Linked DNA regions of Homo sapiens. The protein of the gene in region 3 purifies or fractionates together with the protein of the main gene of each other region. This does not show direct contact. Each region holds a gene or a part of one and is shown on either strand. Other genes may lie near its edges.

Region 1 (7,037 bases), on a different chromosome or scaffold from region 3:
AGAGGCTGAAGCAAAAGAATTGCTTGAACCCAGGAGGCGGTGGTTACAGTGACTTGAGATTGTGCCACTGCACTCCAGCCTGGGCGACAGAACAAGACTCCATCACAAACAAACAAACAACAAACTATGAAGAGAAAGAGTGGCTTGGTCACGATGTTGGCTGGCAGAGCTGAGTCTAGAATCCAGGGCTGCTAATGCTCACACCAACACCCTTCCCTGGGCCCCTGTTACTCCAGCAGTGTGTGGAATAACTGTAGTACCTGGAAGGGGACAAATGGGCTCATTCAAAATAAGGGTAATGGCCTTCCACCCACCAGGCTGGCCACCTTCAACCATCCCCTGCAAACAATAATGAGGTCAACTCATCCATCCGGGTCAGGGCCCCAGCAGGCCCTTAAAATGCCCAGGACACTCCTGATTTCCATGGTGGGTGCCTGGTGGGTAGAAAGACCAAATACACCTGGTGAGAAATACCAGGAATTAATTCAGCACTGCCACTCTCATCTTCAGCAAGGGAAGCAGGACCTACTGGACTTCGTCTCTGCCCCATCTCTGTGTGGGTCTTACCTGGGAGGAGTTTTCGGGCCGCCTCCTCAGCCATTCTCAGGAGAGGCCCGGAACAGGGCCATCCAGCCTCTACTTCCACCCCAGCCTTCTTGGAGAGCAGATGAGCAGACAGGAGTCCTCCTACCACTACAGATGGCACAGAAAGCAAATGGCACAGTCCAAAGGGAAAGACCAAGGGATCAAGGATCTTTCCCCTGTGCGAGTTAAACATAAACACTCTATTGTGGGGCGCATGTTCTCAGGACCTCCTGAAGCTATTTCACGGGTAAAAACAAACAAACAAAAACCTCACTCTGTTGGGGTGGCTCACTGGGAAGGAGCTAGAGCCACCCAGCGAAAAAAGAGTCCCTTAATCCCACATATTTCTATGGTGTTAAGTTTATGGGGTTTTCTTCTCTTGGTTCATCACAGGAACAGTGGCTATTTTTTGTAAGTCCCTATTGTGTACCAAGCACTAAGTACTACTGTCCCCTCTTCGTATGAAGATACTGAGGTTCCATGAGATAAAGTGACTTGCCCCAGGTCACCCATCTAGTAGGTGGTAGGGCTGAGTATCTTTGATTCCAAAGCCCATGCTCATTCCATTTGTCACTCTGTCTGTCTCCCAGTCACCTGTCATACCTGGGGGGAAGGGGTAATGATGGTTATTACCTTTATTTTACTAATTTATCTATTTCAACTTATTATGCAATATGTAGAACTTTTTTTTTTTTTTTTTGAGACGGAGTCTCGCTCTGTCACCTAGGCTGGAGTGCAGTGGCGCGATTTCGGCTCACTGCAAGCTCCGCCTCCCAGGTTCACGCCGTTCTCCTGCCTCAGCCTCCCGAGTAGCTGGGACTACAGGAGCTCACCACCATGCCCGGCTAATTTTTTTGGATTTTTTTTTTGTAGACACGGTGTTTCACTGTGCTAGCCAGGATGGTCTCGATCTCCTGACCTCATGATCCACCTGCCTCAGCCTCCCAAAGTGCTGGATTTACAGGCATGAGCCACCGCACCCGGCCTACTTAGAACTTTTAAAAAGACACAAAGGTTCTTGGAAATACAGCTAAATAGATATCCTGAGTGGCCCTCTCAATGAAAATAACTGGTGACCCTAAGTTTCAAAATTCCCCTCCTCCCTGCAGAGGGGGAATAGGAGACCAAGGTCAGACCTGCCCCAAGTGGAAGTCTGATAAAAGGTCCCTATGCAGGCCAGGCATGGTGGCTCACATCTGTAATCCCAGCACTTTGGGAGCCGAGGTGGAGATCACGAGGTCAGGAGATGGAGACCATCCCGGCTAAAATGGTGAAACCCTGTCTCTACTAAAAATACAAAATATTAGCTGGGCGTGGTGGCAAGCGCCTGCAGTCCCAGCTACTTGGGAAGCTGAGGCAGAAGAATGGCTTAAACCCAGGAGGTGGAGGTTGCAGTGAGCCAAGATTGCACCACTGCACTTCAGCCTGGGTGACAGAGTGAGACTCCGTCTCAAAAAAAAAAAAAAAAAGTCTGGGCACGGTGGCTCATGCCTGTAATCCCAGCACTTTGGGAGGCTGAGGCAGGTGGACTGCCTGAGCTCAGGAGTTCGTGACCAGCCTGGTAAACACGGTGAAACCCTGTCTCTATTAAAAATACAAAAAATTAGCCGGGCATGGCGTTGTGCGCCTGTAGTCCCAGCTACTCGGGAGGCTGAGGCAGGAGAATTGCTTGAACCCAGGAGGCGGAGGTTGCAGTGAGCTGAGATCATGACACTGCACTCCAGCCTGGGCGACAGAGCGAGACTCCATCTCAGAAAAAAAAAAAAAAAGAAAAGAAAGAAAGAAAAGAAATCTACATGTATGTACCTTATGGTAAAACTGCAGAACACCAAAGGGAAAAATGATCTCGAATGCAGCCAGAATCCATGTAATAATAATTATTAATGCTGGGTGATGGGCACGTCTGGTTCATTATGCTATTTTCTCTACTTTTATGTTTGAAGTTTTCCATAACAAAAAGTTTTTAAAAGGAGAAGACAGCCAAAGTGAAAACCAAAACAAGATTCTCTACAAATAAATAATAATTACATTGACAGATTACTTCTTAACAATAATGAAACCAGAAGATAATGGAAAAAGTTTTTAACACAATAAGAGAAAGTAACCATCAACCTAGAACCATACACCCAGCAAAAATATCACTCAAAGGCCAACCAAAGGCAGTTGAATAAAGACATTTTCATATAAACAAAAGCTGGGAATGTTTATGAAGCACACACCTGCATTAAAGGAAATTCTAAAGGAAATACTTTAGAGAAAAGGTCTGAGACACGAAAAGAAAAAATAGTCAAAAAAGTGGTAAATAGGCCAGGCACAGTGGCTAAACCTGTAATTCCAGCACTTTGGGAAGCCAAAGCAGGTGGATCACTCAAGATCATGAGTTTGAGACCAGCCTGGCCAATGTGGTGAAACACCATCTCTACTAAAAATACAAAAATTAGCCTGGTGTGGTGGTGCACAACTGTAATCCCAGCTACTCTGGAGGCTGAGGCAGGAGAATCGTTTAAACCCAGGAGGTGGAGGTGAGCCAAGATCGCGCCACTGCACTCCAGCCTGGGTGGCAGAGTGAGACTCTATTTCAAACCAACAACAACAAAAAAAGTGGTAAATTTATGTGTAAATGCAAAACTTCAACAATATAGAACAAAAATTATAATGTATGGAAGGTTTAAAACAAATAACTAAAATATATAACTGTAGCATATAGGTCAGGATGTTCTCTAAGTCAGGTTTTGCATTATTCAGGAGGAGAACAAAGATTTTCATTAAATTTAGACTTTGATAAGTTATGTTTGTTAAATTTGCTTGGAAAACTATGTAAAAAGCTAGATATTGTGCATAATTTCCATATTAGTAAGAGGAAAATGGAATGGGGGGAAAACAATCTAAAGAAGGCATGAAAAAGGACAGAATAAAGGAACATAAAGAAGATGGCACAGGGCCAGGTGCAGTGGCTCACACCTATAATCCCAGCACTTTGGGAGGCTGATGGGGGGCGGATCACCTGAGGTCAGGAGTTCGAGACTAGCCTGGCCAACATGGTGAAACCCCATCTCTACTAAAAATACAAAAATTAGCAGGGCACGGTGGCAGGCACCTGCAATCCCAGCTACATAGGAGGCTGAGACAGGAGAATCGCCTGAACCCGGGAGGCAGAGGTTGCAGTAAGCCAAGATTGCACCACTACACTCCCGCCTGGGCGACAGAGTGAGACTCCGCCTCAAAAAAAAAAAAAAAAAAAAAAAAAAGAAGACGGCACAGAGAGCACAATACTGTAGAAATGAGTGCAAATATATCAGTAATTACAGTAAATGTAAATGGATTAAATGTGCCAGTTAAAGATTGTCAGAATGGATAAACAAAATATAATACACTATTTGCAAAAGATGTATCTAATCATAAAACTACAGAAAGATGGAAAGGATAGAAAAAGATACATGGGAAAATGTCAACCAAAAGAAAGCTGGTATCACTTATATTCCTATCAGAAATAAAGGTATAAGAATGACCTTCATTTACAGATGACAAACTGGGCTCAGAAGCTGGGAGACATAGCAGCAAGTACAGCCTCAAACTCAGGCCGGATTCCTAAACCAGGATTTTAGACCATGTTGTCCCTCTGCTCTCTTCTCTTTTTTAATCTTTTATGGATCATATGTCTGGAATATAAGTTTCATTGCAGAAAACATACAAAATAATGGGGAAAAATAGAACTCTGCCATCCAGAGGTGACAGCTGTTAAGTGGTCTAGAGGTTCGATGCAAATAAGGGCTGTGCTGGCTTCACAAGAATCACTGGAAGTCTGCTAAAAATACTGATTCTAGGACCCAACACAGAGATTCCAATTCATTAGGTTTAGGGTGGAGTCTCAACATCTGAATTTTTTAACCACTTGGGAGTGGTTCCTATGGGCTGCCAAGTTTGGAAGATTAATGCTGTAGATTTGCACTGTCCAATACAATAATCACTAACTACATGTGACTACTTAAATTTAATATCATTAAAATTAAATGAAATTAAAAATTCAATTCCATAGTTGTAGTAGATACATTTCAAATGCTCAATAGCTCATGTGGTTCGTGGCTACCATACTGGACAAAACACAGCTATAAGACATTTCCATCACTGCAGAAAATTGGATTGGACAGACAATAAGTTCCAAGAAGGCAAGGATCATATCTTTCTTGTTCATAGCTGTATGCCTAGTATCAAATACATATTAAAGAGGTGAGTAATCTGGTGTATTTCTTTCCAGTCTCTTAGTCTCCTGCTCACTTTCATATCTGAAACTGATGGGGAAATCCTGAGACTTCCCCACCTCACCCTCCAGGAGGGAAGAAGAGCTCTGTCGGTCAGAGGTTTTGGCCAAGGGTCCTGGCATGGTCAGTCCTTAAAATCCTATTTACCACTTCTTGGTTTACAGAGGCAACTTCACACTCTTTTTTCTTTTAAAGGTCCTAGAGAGCAGCCCTTACCTCGAATGTTTGTTTCAAACACAGAGGCGTTCACATCAATATCAAAGTCCACGCTGTCCTGGAGCACTTCAACCACTCTTTGGAATTCTGAGACATTCCCCAAAATCTGGAAATAAAAAAGAGACCTGACAATGAGGCTCTTACATGCATGGAGGCAGATTCAGAGTCTGGGATCCTATGTTGATGTGGCCCTCACTAATTCCACTTAAGACCTCCAGTTTCTGTCCTAGGATTGGTGACAGCAGAAGAAAACACTGAGAGCTAGAAATCATCTAGAGACTTCATACCAAGAGACTGGTTAAGTAAATTCCTAGGTCCCAATTAAGAGTCACGATGTTGTCATTTAAATGGACACAATATAAAGAACGCAAACTACGCATAGAAGTCTTAGGTTTTTTGTTTCGTTTTTTTGAGACAGAGTCTCGCTCTGCTGCCCAGGGTAGAGTGCAGTGGCGTGATCTTGGCTCACTTCAAACTCCGCCTCCTGGGTTCAAGCGATTCTCCTGCCTCAGCCCCGAGTAGCTGGGATTATGCACCACCATGCCCGGCTAATTTTTGTATTTTTAGTAGAGACGGGGTTTCACCATGTTGATCAGGCTGGTCTCAAACTCCTGACCTCATGATCCACCCGCCTTGGCCTCCCAAAGTGCTGGGATTACAGGTGTGAGCGACCGCACCTGGCCAAAAGTCTTAGTTTGACATTTGCAGTAGATACCAGTTGTCACCTTCAACCTTGTGGAAAACAGAACAGGTTGGTTGGCCCAAAACAAATTCATTCCTACCCTCTTTACCTCATGGCCTCCCACCAGAGGTTGGAAATCCAGAAGCTTTCTCGGCCTCCTTTGCTGCTGCAGTTGATTGTGTTACCCAGTCAATTCTGACCCTTGAGAGGTCTACTGGGGGCACTTCTGGGAAGGCTTCTGTTTTCTTAATACCAAGGGACAAACACAGCTAACATGGCTTTTAGTCTCTCTCTTTCTGCCTTGAACTCAGACTCGATTTCTGAAGTGATGGCAGCTATGTGAGACCATGACGTACTAAGCATTAGAATAAAAGCCAAAACACTAACGATACTAGAATGCAAAGCTACAAAGAGGCTGGTCTCTAATGACACAGTTGCGTAGCTGACCCAATGCTAGAAATTACCTCTAGACTTTCTTTTACTTGAGAAAATAAACCCTCTTTATTTAAACCGTTAGCCAAATGCAATCTCAATCTCTCTTCTTTTGATAGTAACATCTCAATTTACCCTCGAGGAATCACTCTTCCCCGGCAGTCACTCCTGTGGTTTGGGAGAGGCTGATCCCATCCCTCTAGCTGTGGAGTGGGTACTTGACCTGAACCAGTCCAAGTCTTTTTTTTGAGACAGGGTCTTGCTCTGTTACACAGGTTGGAGTGCAGTGGTGTGATCATAGCTCATCACAGCCTCGAACTCTGGGACTTGAGCAATGTTGGCCTCCCAAAGTGCTGGGATTACAGGCATGAGCCACCACACCTGGCCCTTTTTACCTTTCTAAGCATCAGGTTTCTTTTATATCTTTTTTTTGTTTGTGTGAGACAGGGTTTTACTCTGTTACCCAGACCAGAGTGCAGTGGTGCGATCTCGGCTCACTGCAACCTCTGCCTCCCTGACTCAAACAATCCTCCTACCTCACCCTCCTCCCTAACAAATGGAGCCACAGACATGTGCCATCATGCCTAATTTTTTATATTTTTGGTAGAGACGGGGTTTCACCATATTGCCCAGGCTGGTCTTGAACTCCTGTGCTCAAGCAGTCCTGCCGCCTTGGCCTCCCAAAGTGCTGGGATTACAGGCGTGAGCCACTGTGCCCATCCCTAAGCATCAGGTTTCTTAACGATAAGAAGGAGTAAAGGTACTAACCTCAAGAAGTTGTTAGAAGAATTAATACATGTCTGTACTAAGCCCTACAGAAACATACTAACTAGTCACTGATATTATTTCTTTATAATTTTTTT
Region 2 (7,670 bases), on a different chromosome or scaffold from region 3:
ATGGTCATATAATATACTTAACCATAGAATTAAAACTAAAACAACCGTACAAATGAACAAATTTGTATGATGTACAAATTATGTAACTAACAAAAAATGGAAAAATATGGGGAAAGAAGGTCTACGGAAGAAGTATGCTGGAATTTTCAGTTACAATAGCCAATCAAAGGATGAAATGTAAACTTGATAAACAGAAATAAAACAAAATGTAATAATGCAAAAGAAACACCAAGGAAAAGTAAATAAATGACTAAAATTAGATGGTGGAGAAGAAATAGAGGACTACAGAGACATTGAAGAAATGCCCTGCTTTCATTATTTCTCATTATGAAGAATAATAGATCTGGGATTCTTTTTAAAATAGAGGACTGAGGGTACTATAAAAGGTTATAGTTGTAAAGGTAATTTATAGAAGGAAATAATGTAAACCTTCTTAAATGTCAGAAGAACCACCCACACACAACTACAAAGAAGAAAGACACAGATTATTGAACAATCCTTTAAAAATTTTAAAACATGGAAAATGCAATAAAAACCATAAGACAGAAACAATCTCAAGTATGTTTGTAATATGAATAAATGTAAATGAACAAAAACTTAACTATTGTTTTAAAAAATAAGATTTTCAGGTTGTATCACATAGCAAAATCCAATTCTAGGCTCTGTACAAGAGATACTAAAACCAAGTGTTTGGAAAGGTTAAAAATGAAAGACACAGTTAGATTCAAGCCAAACAGCATTAAACTAGACAAAAGCATATACTTCATAAAGTTAAAATGCACAATTCACAAAAAGCAAATTAAAAGAGTAGTGCTTTGGTAACTAATTAGAGTTTATTTAGAGTGACCCTCTATTCCAGCTTACCATGGATAGTTTATGTCTGTTGTCCTGGCTTAAGTATTTATTGAACATTCTTTCATACCTAAAGTATATAGGTTTACATGTTAAATAATATGGTCATTTTAGGCACATTCCAGGAATGCAAGGATGGTTCTATATCAGAAAACATATTCACATAAATTCCTATCAAGTTTTAGCATTTTGCCATCAGCTTCATAACACTGCATGTCATGCTGTATTATATCCTTTGTATTGTATCGTATCATATAGGTCTCTGCTTTTTAGCATTCACTTTCTTTGGCTCACTGTATCACAGCTGTGATATATGTTCCTTTTACAGGGTCCCCTAAAAGGCTTTCTGGAAGATTTAGGCAGACTGCAAAAGAAGTTCTATGCCAAAAATGAACGGTTACTTTGTCCTATCAGGACCTACCTGGTTACAGCTAGGAGTGCAGCCAGTTCAGGCGCCCGTGTGCTGAAGACCCTTCGACGCTGGGGTCTAGAGATAGACGAAGCTCTTTTCCTTGCTGGAGCCCCCAAAAGTCCCATCTTGGTGAAGATCCGGCCCCACATCTTCTTTGATGACCACATGTTCCACATTGAAGGGGCACAGAGGTTAGGTTCCATCGCAGCTTATGGCTTTAATAAAAAATTCAGTAGTTAGGGGCAGGGAGGAGAAATAAAGTGGTGATAGTCTGGTGTTACAGAAGCCACTTCTTTTGGCTCTCTAGGATAATTAGATAGGTATTTCAGAAAATTGGACCTTAAAACTTTGCTTCTTTGGAAAGGTTTTCTCCTGATTTTTTGGAAAACCTTTTGAACCCTCAAGTTACCATCAAACTACTTCTCTTTGAACTACCAATACTGTTGAATGCCATTACACCTATCTCTGTGTAAGTCATAATGATGACTCTTTAGGATAAGTTTAGAACTTGAATATTTGCATGCTTAAGGCACTGTTTTAGAAGCTTACTTAGTTTTATAAACACTGCTCATTTTTGGATGTTTGTAGATAACAATGAATTGTTACCCATCAGCATTGTAGAATAGTGTCTTCAAAGGTAGAAGGAGTATGGTTAAGCACACTCTTGAAAACTGGAGCTTTGTATTCTGTGACTGCTATGGCTAGCTTTGTAACCAAAGCAAAATGAGAATTTCACTCTACCTGCATGAGTATAACAATTTTGATACTGCTCATTTAGAAATAAATCATCTGGTTGTTCCTCCAGGGTACTTTCTAAGATAAGCCTTAAACAGAAACCCCTAAGAAAGGTTCTCTGAAAATTATTTGGTGGGTTAAATGCCTCTGATCCACAGAGTTTCATATTTGAAGTCTCCGGCTTTGGGCCTGGCAGGCTGGCACATCCATATTTGTATGGAAAAAAAAAAAAAAGACCCTACGCTACCACTTCAAAAAGTGACATGAAGTGTAGTATCCTGGCCCTTCATTGTCATTCTCTCATGATTTTTGTTTTGTTTTCAACAAAAATTGGTTGGTCATTAAATATATCATATGTTAGGCACAGTGACCTGGTTATTTTCACATGTTACTTCATTTTCTTATCAAATTAAATGTTTGTGACATAGTATTATTATTACCTTCCTTTTTATCAATGAGGAGCCTAAGATTCAAAAAGATTAGACAGCTTGTTTAAGGATATGGAGCTAATAAGTGTTAAGACTAATTAGATTCAAATTCAAATCTTACTTCATAAGTTATAATGAGGTCTCTTTCCTCCCTTCCAAATAGAGTTATTAATTTCATGGCCTTTGGACCCATCTGGTACAGATTAATCATTTCATTAAGTTCCATGCATAAACTACACAGCAGTTACACTGCAGGTCTAAGGATTCCTCCCTCCTCTTTTCCTCCTACCCTCTCCTGCTCTCTCTACCTCCACCTTCATCTCTACTCCACCTGTACATATGTATTCCACCCCTGGCTCTAGATGAGAGAAGACCACAGCTGAAACACATCTTCTGATGCTCCCTAATTTTATGTAAACCAGTCCAAAATATATCAGTTGTGACATGTGACACTGAGTACCTACCATTTTGTAGGTGTCCTCCCATGCAAAGACCACAAGAGGTACGCAGACACAATCCTATCCTCTAGGAAACTTGAAACCTTAACAATCTGGTCAAGGAAGTCAAATGTGCAAACTCAAACAGCCAATACTAGAAGGCTGTTTGTCTTCAGTGCCAGTGAGGGTCACACATGACCCTGAGGGTCACACATGAAGGGAGCAGAGATCTTTATAGGCTGGAAGTGGTCAGGAAAGAAAGACTTGAGGTAGCCTGTGATTTTGATGGATGGGCAAGATGTGGATGGGTAGAAAGGACAATAAAGTGGAAACATATGCTGGGGGATCAATGAGTTTGAGTAGCAGCTTCAAATTGGGGATAGGGTGGTGTAGGACCACCTCTCATGATTCCTGTTCCTGGTGCCTTGTATAATCCCCAGTAAGAGTGCTCTTTCCCACCTCTGAGCTCCATTCTCATTACTCATAAGAAACCTCCTGGAATCCATCCCTTTTTCTTTGTATTCTGACTATTAGTTGCATGTTACATCCTTCCCAAATGTAAGGGAGTGGAAGATGGATTATCACAATTATTGGGGAGTTTGTCTCAAACGACACAAGCTGTGGTTCTTTTTCCTTGTCTGGAGAACCTGCAATGGGTGGAGGGTGGGAAGTGGGAGATCACAGTTCCAGAAAGTAAGCACCCTGAGAGCAGAAATGGTGTCCCATTTCTCTGTGGCTCTAACAGGGAACAGGCAGGGCCAGGCACATATTGGATGGAGAGGCAGACGAACGAATGAGTCTTTAAAAGTAGCTTGGTCTACAGCTATGAAGTTTGTAGCTTGAAGAAGGGTCCCTGTGACACTAACCCTGATATTAATGAGGCATTTTACAGTGAGCCAAGCACTTTGCCTTCCATCGTTGTGTGTAATAGTCCTATGGAGAGGGCAGGGAGGCATTTGTAAATGGCCTGCTCAGAAGCCTATATTTACAATAAGTCCAAGCTTTTCCCACTGTACCTCTGCCAGTGTGAAGATCATTTGAAGATGGCTTTCTTTTTTTTAATAGGGACCAATGACATAATGTCTTGTTCAGTGGTTCTCAAAGTGTGGTTCCCAGATCTGCAGCAGCAGCAGCACCTGGAAACTTGTTAAAAGTGCAAATTATCAGGCCCCATCCTGTACCTATTGAATTAGAAACTCTAATACTGGGGCCCTGGTTTTTTGTTTTCGTTTTGTTTCATTCCCCCACCCCGAACCCCCACCCCAAGTCCTCCAGGTGATTCTGATGTGCATTTAAGTTTGAGAACTACTCGACCATTCTATTTCCAACTGATTCATGTTGCTTAATTCTTTGTCTCATCTATGAAAAACAGTCCTACCTCAGACTTCAGCTTGTCAGGGCCCATTCCTCAGAAGGTGAATTGAACTGAATTTACAAGTCCCAAGAGCCCTCAAAGGAAAACACACGAAATGCCCTGAGGAGTGGCATTTGTAACAGGGCCTGTACAGAGATCTGTGATTCAAAGTACTCATCAGACATTCCCATGGGGAAGTCCGCCACTACTCTGGGATTTCAATACGTATGAACCCCAGCACCCTGAACACTGTGCTGGTTGCCCAGCCTCCATCATTAGGCTGGGAGGAGCTTCCACGGAGGGCGCAGGACCCAGGGCGCTGAACTCTCACAACCAATCAGGCGACCCCCCCAGAGGGAAACTACAAGTCCCAGCATGCCCCACGCGCACCGTCAGGGGCCGACCCGCCGCGCCCCAGCGTTCTCCGCGTACAGGTGGTCTCTTGGGTTCCGGTAAGGCGGCGGCTGCGGAACTCCCGTGGAGGGGCCGGTGGGCCCTCGGGCCTGACGATGGCAGTGGCCACTGCGGCGGCAGTACTGGCCGCTCTGGGCGGGGCGCTGTGGCTGGCGGCCCGCCGGTTCGTGGGGCCCAGGGTCCAGCGGCTGCGCAGAGGCGGGGACCCCGGCCTCATGCACGGGAAGACTGTGCTGATCACCGGGGCGAACAGCGGCCTGGGCCGCGCCACGGCCGCCGAGCTACTGCGCCTGGGAGCGCGGGTGATCATGGGCTGCCGGGACCGCGCGCGCGCCGAGGAGGCGGCGGGTCAGCTCCGCCGCGAGCTCCGCCAGGCCGCGGAGTGCGGCCCAGAGCCTGGCGTCAGCGGGGTGGGCGAGCTCATAGTCCGGGAGCTGGACCTCGCCTCGCTGCGCTCGGTGCGCGCCTTCTGCCAGGAAATGCTCCAGGTGTGGGCCTCGGGGGGCCGGGCTGGTGGGGAGGGCCTGGGCACGGTGTGGGAGGGGACTGCGGGCTGGGGCTGAGCCGCGAGGGACCGCCCTGGGGTTCAGGGTGTCACCTTGGGAACCGCTGAGGCTGAGAGGAGTCCAAAAAGCCACTTTGAGGCGGCCGGGAAGCTGCAGGGTTGAGAGGGAAAGAGAAACTAACTGGGAGGGCTGCCTTCTGTCCTCTAAGGATGTCGAAAAAGAAATGGGCCCAAGAGAAAAATAAATAAACCAGTTTCTGAACGTTTCATTTCGTTACGTGAGGACCGCCCCGAAGTAGATCCATGGCCTCTGAATTGTTTTTCCTGTGTCAGAAGTGAATTTGCACCAAGCTGTGTCTTCAGAACCCCTGAGCACTGGGGGAAGTTGCTAGCTAAGGACCTCATATCAGTCCTTTAAAAAAAGTTCTCCTTCCCCCGGCCTCTGCCCCTTTTCTGCTGGGGTAAGGAGCTCGCTGCCACCAGTAAACTCAGCACCATCCTTAACGGGACTGTGGCCTGATTTCCAAGTAGAATACATTTTGGAACCCAGTGGTCATGCTCCATACAGAGACAGGAATAAAAATAACACCCAGCATTATTGAAGATCTGTATGCCAGGAGCTGTGCCAAGCATTTCAGATTTTCCTTTTTGTCTTAAATGAAAATGAAGTGTCCTTGCCTATAACTGTCATTGAAGCTACACAGTAACCCTGTGGAGTAGGCATTATTATCATCCCTGTTTTACAACGCGAGGAAACTGAGGCATAGGAAGGCTAAGAAACTTGCTTGTGGTCTGTCTCCAGAACACTTGCTTTTAACCCTTGTTCTTTCCTCCTGCTGCCTGGCAGTGAGGTGTGAGGATTTCTTTGTGCAAATGGTAAGTAATTCCACATAAGTGGATGTTCTCCGTTGAGATTGAGGTAGAAGAGTTTCTTGCAGGGATAACTGGCATTCAGAGGGCATTTGTTCAGAAGAGTGAAATTTAAAATTAGCTGGGACAAGAAAGGTGCCTATATGACGTAGAGTCTCTTGAGTCTAGAGAAGAGGTTCCCAAATTTTCTCAGTAATTTTTTCATGATGCCCTTAGGCCAGAAATATTTCCCAGTTCATTTATTTAGAAAGTTTATTTTGCCAAGGTTAAGGATGCACCCGTGGCAGAACCTCAGGCGGTCCTGAGGACATGTGCCCAAGGTGGTCGGGGCACAGCTTGGTTTTATACATTTTAGGGAGACATGAGACATCAATCACATATGTAAGGTATACATTGGTTCTCCTGGAAAAGTGGGACAACTCGAAGTGGGGGCTTCCAGGTCATAGGTAGATGGGAGACAAAAGGTTGCATTCTTTTGGGTCTTTGATTAGCCTTTTACTGAATACAATTTACATGTGCAGGAGGGATAGAGGAATAATCACTTATGTCTTAGACTGGCTCAGTGAGTCTGCATTTTCACATAAACAATACGGCAGAGTCAGCAATCAGATAAGCATTTATCTCAGGTGAGCAGAAGGATGACTTTAGAGTTCTGTCTTTTGTTTGGCACTTGTGAAGATGAGCTATCAATTTATGAATACATTGCCAGGGTGAAATTCAACAGAAGTGTTTTAGGGTAAAGATCTTGAGGCCCATGTGGGCAAATTATGAGGGTGATATGTAGCTTCTTTTTCTTTGTAGCTATCTTATTTAGGAATAAAATGGGAGGCAGGTTTGTCTGAGGCAGTTCCCAGCTTGACTTTAACCTTTGACTTAGTGATTTTGGGTTCTGAGATTTATTTTCCTTTGACACAACCTAATAAGTAGTTATGTCCTAACAACTTAGTAGCTATTTGAGAAGATAACATAATTGAAAGAAAAAAATAATATGTTTATTTTGTTCTTAAACAGCCATAACTACTAATGGGAAATGTATCTCTGTTGGTCATTACACCAGTGTCTGAAACCTTGGAATCAGATTGGACACTTCCACCCTCATTTCCTGTTCTAGGTAGATTTTTAGCATTGTTCTTGTTTTTTATTACAGCAACTGCTAACAGCTGCTTAAAAGTCAGCTCCACAAAGAAATAATGTCATTGAAAGGAATATAGCACAATGTAATGTTCAAGCTGTGAACCACCTGGAGCTAGTAGTTTTGAGGTATTGAGCAAATATCACTGTGTTTCCCTCGAAAATTTAAAATATTCCACAACACCCTGAGAGTTTGCTGCAATGCTGTAGGCCACAGTTCGGGAGCTGTTGCAGAACTAGAGAGTTGGTTTTTTGTTTATTGCTAGTATTTAATTATGTGTAACACAGGTTAAGAAATAATACTCATCAGTGAGATTTTGGAAGCATTAAAGATGGATCTTTCTGTTCCTCTTTAAAATATAGATGGGGCTGGGTTTGCTTCTTTGGCACTTGAGGCAGAACTAATTAAAAAGTGAGGACACAAAGAGATAATTAAGTTGTCCTTGCTTCTAAGTAAGTATTTCTGTTCCTGCCTGGCTCTGAAGTTAAGTGACTATAATTAGAAGGAAAAAAAAATGGAAATGTAGATTTC
Region 3 (7,439 bases):
TCTTATTATTTAAGAGAAAGAGTTGAATCACCAAAAATACACTGCGCAGTGGGGAAAACAAAACACTAACCAGGAAACCTCAACTAAGCATCCCAGTCAGCAGAAAGTGCCCACGCAGATGTCTCAAGTCCCTCCAGATTACCTCTTGTTTGTGAGTTGGGGAGGGATTTCAGAGCAGTGCCTCAAGGGAGTGTATCATTTTTCTGTGATGCTCTCCAGTGGCCAGCCTGTGTCTTGGGAAAGGGGATCAGGAGAAGGTGATGACACAGGGTTGTTCTTTGCCCTTTGGCCTTGTTCAGTAAACAACCTGTCAGGAGGCCAGAAAGGAGCACGTAGAAGATAATTTTGAGGGCCAAAAAGGGAAGATGCTCCCCATCTTTGAGACCAGCCCCATGCTGACAGAGCAGGAACCTTCCTCCTTCCCCAGCCCTTTTCTCCTCACCTCCTTTCTTGTGCCCACACTGCAGCACACATCACTCCATTCTGGGAGACAAAGCCAGCTCCATTTTTGGTGAAGAGGGGAAGTAAGAGTCAAGAATGCTCCTGTCTTCTCCATGGCTGCAGCCCAGCTGTCAAACACTTTGGCGCCAGCTGACCTCCAGAAGGGGAGACTATGGTGTGACATTTGCTTCCTTTATCTCAAATATTTCACAATATACATGCTCTGTGCCTTTTCAAATTATATCCTCCTCAAAGAAGCAAGGCATGCATCTTTTCCTAGAGTAGGCAGCAGCTCTGATATTGATAAGACAGGATCATTGTGGCAGCATGTCTCGGTCATGCCCTCAGTGCTGCAAAGCAACTTATTCTGGGTGAAGGGGGACTCCAGAGGGTCATGCCTTAAACAAATAACATACACACAACTGTGTGAGTCAGGAGGGAAAGCACACAAACTCCAGCATCACTTTGCTGTTGCCTGATGTCATCAGACTGCCCCCCGGGGGATTTGGTATACTTTAGTTGCTTGGTTAATACTGGCATTGCATGTATTTTAGCGAGCATGGTCAGAGAGAGTCACTTCAACATGCACATGTCTGGAGAAGGACAGAAGCAGAAATACTTGACTTATAATATACCTTTTATCCCTCTGATTGGTCTATGCTGACATAACAATGTCCCTGCTGAATAAGGCCTAGATTACCCAACTATAAGCTTGACCTTTTATAATTGTTATCCTTTTAACAAAACATTTGTTTCTGCTCATAGCACCCTGCTCCTAGGGCTGCAAAGAGCACACACACAATTCTTTACAGAGGGGTCTGTTCAATCACATTACAGTGCATTAGCTTGAACATTGGTTAACATTTGGCTTAGGTCTATATACCCTGGATAAATATGTACCATGCAGAGGGACTGCTTGGTGAGGAGAAGAGTCCTCTGGGCTGGAACAACAGCTCACAAGTTCGTGTTCCTACTAGGCAGGAACACTCCAGGCATCCGTGATTTGGACAGGGTGCTGGACATGCTTGGTTCTTCTGTGGGCAGCCTGTTTCCTGCATACAGCTGTGAGCACAAGCACACATACATACACACACCACAGGCAGCATTCGACAGTGTACCCAGATGATCACAAAAACAGAGACAGAGATCTGCTAGATGATACCAGCACATCCCACCTTTCAGCACAGCAATGTTCTTCCCTAGTGTCTCCAGTGCTCTGCCAGGCTCAAGTCAATCAATGGGGCTTCTGCCACCACCCTGGGGAGACTATTTGCAACCTACAGGGTTCACTGTTTGGAATTTTATTTTCCTGACTGCATGTGCATGGGAAACATGCCATAGGGCTCTATGAGCACGATAATATAGATATCGTGCATTGTAACCTCAGCTCTTTGGGCTCCTTCCCAAACATAATGAACCTCCCAGCGTCAGCTGGGCAGGCAAAAGTCCTCGTCATCTTCTGCAATTATGCAGCCCTATTGAATTTTCTGAAGCTAATAGGAGTTGCACTAACTTTGAGGACTTAAACCAGGCAAAAGCAATATAGGTCAGGCAGGGAGCCCAAACCCTCTGACAGCCATGCAACACCAGGAGGCAATACCAGAGCAATCTCTAGCTCAACCCCAAAGTCCATTGCTCAACTCCACAAGACAGAAACTAGGAGAGGTGGCATCATTCCCTCTGCCTGCCACTGCCAGGCACCAGGGCAAGAGGGTTGTATGAGAGCAAAATGGTCCCTTTACCAACGGACACACCAAAAAGGACAATGAAAAGGGGAGAAAAATCACCGAAACCCTGCACTGTTACCTTGAATCCTTGCAAGAGCCCTCCTTGCTGTATCAGCTGCTCCCCAAACCTTCAACGACTGGGAGGAGACTCCTAAAAGATTCCAGGTTTTTGTGCAACATCTCCAGTGGCAGCTTTCCAAAGTTTTTACTTCATGATTTCTTGTGGTTCTTTCTCATTTGGGGAAACGCGAATGCCTCCCCCTCAGCGTGTGAGAGGGAGCGGATGTCTCTTTTCAAATTCTCTTGCTCCCCGCTTTACTGTCGGTGCCGCCGCCGCCGCCACCGCCACCGCCGCCAACGTTAGACCACTTGCCTGCTGCCTTCCCGCTGAGCAGCCAGGATCCCGGTCTCCCAGAGCATCTTTGAAGTGGGGCTTCGGCACTGGGCCGGGGCGCACGCGGGGTGGGAGAGGTAAGGGAAGTGCAAGACCCAACTGGGGGAGTCCCCTGTCCCTCCGCCGAGGAGAAACCCAAGATTTTGCCTTCTTTCCAACTCTAAAGAGACTCACCCACCCGCTCTCTCACCCGAAATCACTGCCTTGCACATGGGCAGAGACAGGTCTTCCGGCTTCACCGCTCCCTCGGCTGCCTGCAGACCTGCCACTGACCTCGGAGCGCACGGCAGGTGCACATCCCCGGGCAAGTCCTAATGGGATCCTCCGAGCTCAGCGTAAGCGCTGCCAGCGCAGCGGCGAGCAGCTTGCGAGGCAGGCGGATTGCATCCCAGAGCTGCAGCCCGGCGCGTCCCCGCTCCGACTCCGCGCTCCGTACCTAAGCAGTGTCACCTGCAGACTCAGACACCAGATGAGTGTCTTAAGATAACAATGCTGCCCTGCCTGCCTCTCTCTTTCTTTCTTATGCATGTAGGTTGGCAGCCAATGGGACACAGCGCCACACTCCCCACAGGTGCCCATTGGCTGGGCGGCTTGGCAGGGGGCGGGCTCTGAGCCTCACCGCTCTCTCCTTTGGTGAGCTGGCAGGCTGGGGTACCAGCTCTGTTAACCCTCCCAGCGTTGCAGTGGGGACTTTTTGGTGTGTATAAGGAAGCCTTGGGTACATTCACGGGTGGGGCGTTGGACACTCTTAAAAAGGCTGGGGAACAAGAAGTAGCTGGGGAGCTAATTACATTTTCTTCTAATCTTCCTGAGTTACAATAATCATTTATCCCAGCCCATTTTGTTTGCTTGCTTAACTAGAACTCCCAGAGATTGGGACCCATCTGAGCCATTTTCCATCTAATTTGAGGTTTCATTTGGTTGTTTTGTGCATTTTTTAGCCTCTTGGATTACTTAATTAGAAATGAGCCCCCAAGTGAGAAATAGTACACACACACACACACACACACACACACACACACACCCCAGAGACCCAAGAGGAGAGAGAGGCAAAAGAGAGCAAGAACCCAGTAAGATGGCTAGAGAGTGAAACAGATTTAGAGGCCAGGACAGCTAAATCAGGAAACATTCTGCCCCCACACCAGGACTGTAAGGACAAAGGCAAAGAGGAGAACTTCAGGTTTCTGGGGAGAGATTAAGTTTCAAAAATGTCCCTCCAAAAAAGGGAATTGTTTTGCCTGTGGTGTTTTCCCTCTGTGTGTCTCCTTTCACTTCTGTGTGTGTCAGGAAGAGGGACTGTGCATCTCCGTTTAGTTTTTAAAGGAAGACTAGAGAAATCAGAACAGGACCAGCCTTGTTTCTGTGAAGCAGGTGCTGTTGCTGGGCCTGTGAATTGAAAGAGAGGGAGGGAGGAAAAAAGGGAGGGAGGTGGAGGGAAAAGGGAGGAAAGGAGAAGGGAAGAAAATATTAACTTTACATTGAAGTGTGAAGTATATATTTTTGATATCCTAATGAGGGTACAAAACTGAAACATGTCCCGCTAACTAGCATACTAAACTAGATTTTGGCAGGAGCATAGGAAAAAGAGTAATAGTTGAAGAAAAATCCAATTCAAGGGAAGAGCTGGGGGCTGGAGCTGGGGAAGGAACTTGGGAGATCCATGCTAAGTCATGTGGTGGGGGAAGTATGAAGAAGATAAATATATAGTCAGAAAGCGAGAGGAGTCTTTCAATTTAGTTTCCTTAAATGGAGAGCAACATCGGAGATTATTTTGTAAAGAACTAGAAAAAAAAAGTATGTAGAGATTTAATGAATGTGTAAGAAGTACACATGGAGATTAGCTAAACTGCATCAAGTAGCCGTAAGTTCTGAATGAATAAAGAAAAATTAGAAATTTTCTTCATTCATCCCCTCAGACTCACACATCTATCACTTTCACCTATATTTTCTTCTCTGTATCTTATACAACGTTGAACTTCCTTCTGCATACTGCAAGTATCTGTTTGCCTAAGCTACAAAACATGTCAGAGAATGGTGGTCCCACAGGGTCCTGAGCTCTCTTTCTAGAATAAAATAACCAAGAGAACCACTGAGAGCCTAAATCTATTGCTACCCAACTGCTGAGTTATTTACTTTTGTGATTTCTAGAGGCAGAGACCCACTGAACTTGTCCCAAGTGACAACATACTGAAATGTTAAAATAGCATAAGGGAGTGGGTAAATAGAGGGAGAGGTTGAACAAAGGATTGCTAATTTCAATGGAAAGAAAGTTAAAATTTCCAAAATCTGTAAAAGAGAGAGGAAAGAGGTGATGGCAGATAAGAAGACAACTTGAAAAAGAAAACTTGCTTGTACTTTCTTCTCCTATAAAGTCTGAAGCCGTGTAAAAAATTTTAAAGAGGCAGAATATACATTAAGAATTGCCACAAGTGTATAGTTTAATTCTTGCCTATATATGCATCAATGTAACCATTACTCACTTTATTTCCAGCACTGCAGGAAGCATGTTCGTGAACGTTCTCAGTCAAAACCCTCCACTCCCCAGAGATAATTATATTCTGACTTCCATCACCAAAGATTAATGTTACTTGCTCTTGAACTTTGTAAATATAGGATCTTAGAGTATACACTCTTTTGTGTCTTGATCCTTTCACTCATCATTTTGTCTCTGAGATTTATCCATGTAGTTGTATGTTTTATTGCGGTGCACCACTCTATTACATGACTACATGGCATTTATTCATTCTGTTCTTGATAGATATTTGGGATGTTTCTGGGGTTTTTTGGCTATTATAAGTAAACTTGTTATAAATGTTTTTGTGCTTGTCTTTTGGTGGATGTATGCAATCATTTCCTCTGGGAAAACACCAAGGACTATACATTACTTAATTTGCTTTGACTACTACACTGGAGAAAATCTCATGAAGATGACTCTGAAGCCTATTATCTTGCCAAAATAATTGAATAAGGTGATAGTGGCAAAGGCTATCGCTACTGAGTGCCAACTAAATGCCTAAAATGTGTCACATTGTTTACATACATAATCTCATTTCCTCCTCACAACCACCCCCAAAACTATGTATTATTCCTGTTTTGCAAATAAGAATATTGAATTTAAGACTTTGTATTAGGAAATAGCTCTTGCTTTCCTGAGTGTATGTGTATGTATATGTGTAGATGTTGGGGGAGATGTAAATAAATGCCCAGGGAATGGAGCTAAAAGAAGGGAAGTGATGGAAGTTCTCACTGCATAGGTGCAGCTGCAGATTAGCTTGGAGAGATGGGACAATCTGAAGAATAAAGAGTGTTGCACTTCAGGTGGACAGAATGTTATGGGAGGAGTGAAAATAGGAAATAGATTTTAATTTGATTGAGAGATGTGTGTGTCTGTGTGCACATGTGTGGTGGGAGGATAGAGATATAGTGCAGTGAGCAAACTATCTAAAAAACAGTGTGAGATTAGAAGAGTTTTAAAATTTCTAAACCATGGGTTTTCAGCTTTATCATGTAGAAAAAGAAAAACTAGAATGACATAATGAAAGTTAGATTTCATGAAGATCAACCTGGTAGTTGTGTACAGAATGCGTTGCTAGGAGGAAAAGGAATCAAAATCTATTTTAATAGTCAAGGAAAGAGGCCATTGGTGCTTAAATACAGGAAGGTGTATCTCAGGAGAAAAGTGAAGATTGGAGATAACAGCGCTTGCTGTTTTACAGTGTTTTAAAGAATAGAAATTTTCTGAGAATGAATAAATGCCATGTAGTCATGTAATGGACTAGTACACAGCAATACAATATTGAACTACATGGATAAATCTCACAGACATAATGATGAGTGAAAATATTAAGACACAAAAAAGCATATACTCTAAGATTCTATATTTATAAAATTCAAGAGCAAGTAACATTACTCTTTGGTGATGAAAGTCAGAAACATTTTCTGTGACCAGCAGGGGTGAGCGGAGATGATTGGCCCCTTTTGTTGATGGGGAACTAAAGACAAGAATGGTCCAAGCTTATCTCCAAATAAGAATATTATGAAGTTAAGTCTTGAATCCAGTTCTATTATTTCACTATATCATTATGCCTCTACACAAAGGTGATGATTGAGATGCATAACATTTTCCCCCATCTCCTCTAAATGTAAAACATCATGCATTAGAGATGGCCTGGTTTCCATGTACTTCAACCTTTACCCACATCTCTAGGTATTTAATTCCCTAAGAAAGGGCCATGTGACATTATTTCCATTTTTACAGGAATCAAGTACTCTGGAATAATATATTCTCTTTTAAAAAATTCTACTGTTTCTTTTGTTTGGTTTTGTTTAGAGAGGTCTAGAAAGACTTGAGATACCAACTACCAACTATGCCCAACTCAATATACATTTTAAGAAGACTAGATATTGACTTATTGGAAAATCAACCCTAAATGGTTTACTTGGGCTTTCTAACATGACTCAAGAATCTTCAGAAAATTAGAAAGAAAGATTTCAAAGTGACAGTAGATTATATGCTACTCAAAAGCAGGAGTAGTATTTTTCTGGCTGTGCTTAGCCTAATGCTTATGATACAGTAGGTACACAAACATTTGCTGAATTAATTACTGTGGTCCATAAAGCCCAGTGATTATCCATGGGTGCACCCTAGTGTACCATAACCATATAGTGGAAAGAGCAGTGGGCAAAGAAATCTTGTTCATGGTCTTAGCTCCATAGAAGATAGATCACTCTTTAATGGGTCTCAATTTCCTTATCTGTTAAGTGAGAGATTGGATGAATACATGATCAGGTACTTACATGCCATTTCTCACATTCTAGTATCAAGGGTGTGTTCCTGACATCCACTATAATTATTCAATGGCAAATAACCTTGCATA

Evidence for each region. The genes of interacting proteins can lie anywhere in the genome.
Region 1: the proteins of BRINP2 (region 3) and EDEM2 purify together in Homo sapiens (affinity purification with mass spectrometry; 2 studies listed by BioGRID and IntAct, with this or other methods). This does not show direct contact.
Region 2: the proteins of BRINP2 (region 3) and RDH14 purify together in Homo sapiens (affinity purification with mass spectrometry; 2 studies listed by BioGRID and IntAct, with this or other methods). This does not show direct contact.

What each region holds. Positions count from the first base shown.
Region 1 is NC_000020.11:35,137,313-35,144,349, forward strand, and holds part of EDEM2 (ER degradation-enhancing alpha-mannosidase-like protein 2 isoform 1 precursor), read right to left. Parts: intron 5,167-7,037; coding exon 5,061-5,166; intron 694-5,060; coding exon 568-693; intron 1-567. Other genes in the region: MMP24-AS1-EDEM2 (ER degradation-enhancing alpha-mannosidase-like protein 2), read right to left, coding at 568-693, 5,061-5,166. UniProt on the Homo sapiens protein: Involved in the endoplasmic reticulum-associated degradation (ERAD) pathway that targets misfolded glycoproteins for degradation in an N-glycan-dependent manner.
Region 2 is NC_000002.12:18,557,630-18,565,299, reverse strand, and holds the start of RDH14 (retinol dehydrogenase 14), read left to right. Parts: upstream 1-4,646; 5' UTR 4,647-4,727; coding exon 4,728-5,120; exon of another isoform or gene 5,121-5,124; intron 5,125-7,670. Other genes in the region: NT5C1B (cytosolic 5'-nucleotidase 1B), read left to right, coding at 1,181-1,504. UniProt on the Homo sapiens protein: Retinol dehydrogenase with a clear preference for NADP. Displays high activity towards 9-cis, 11-cis and all-trans-retinol. Shows a very weak activity towards 13-cis-retinol. Has no activity towards steroid.
Region 3 is NC_000001.11:177,166,541-177,173,979, reverse strand, and holds the start of BRINP2 (BMP/retinoic acid-inducible neural-specific protein 2 precursor), read right to left. Parts: upstream 3,023-7,439; 5' UTR 2,248-3,022; intron 1-2,247. UniProt on the Homo sapiens protein: Inhibits neuronal cell proliferation by negative regulation of the cell cycle transition.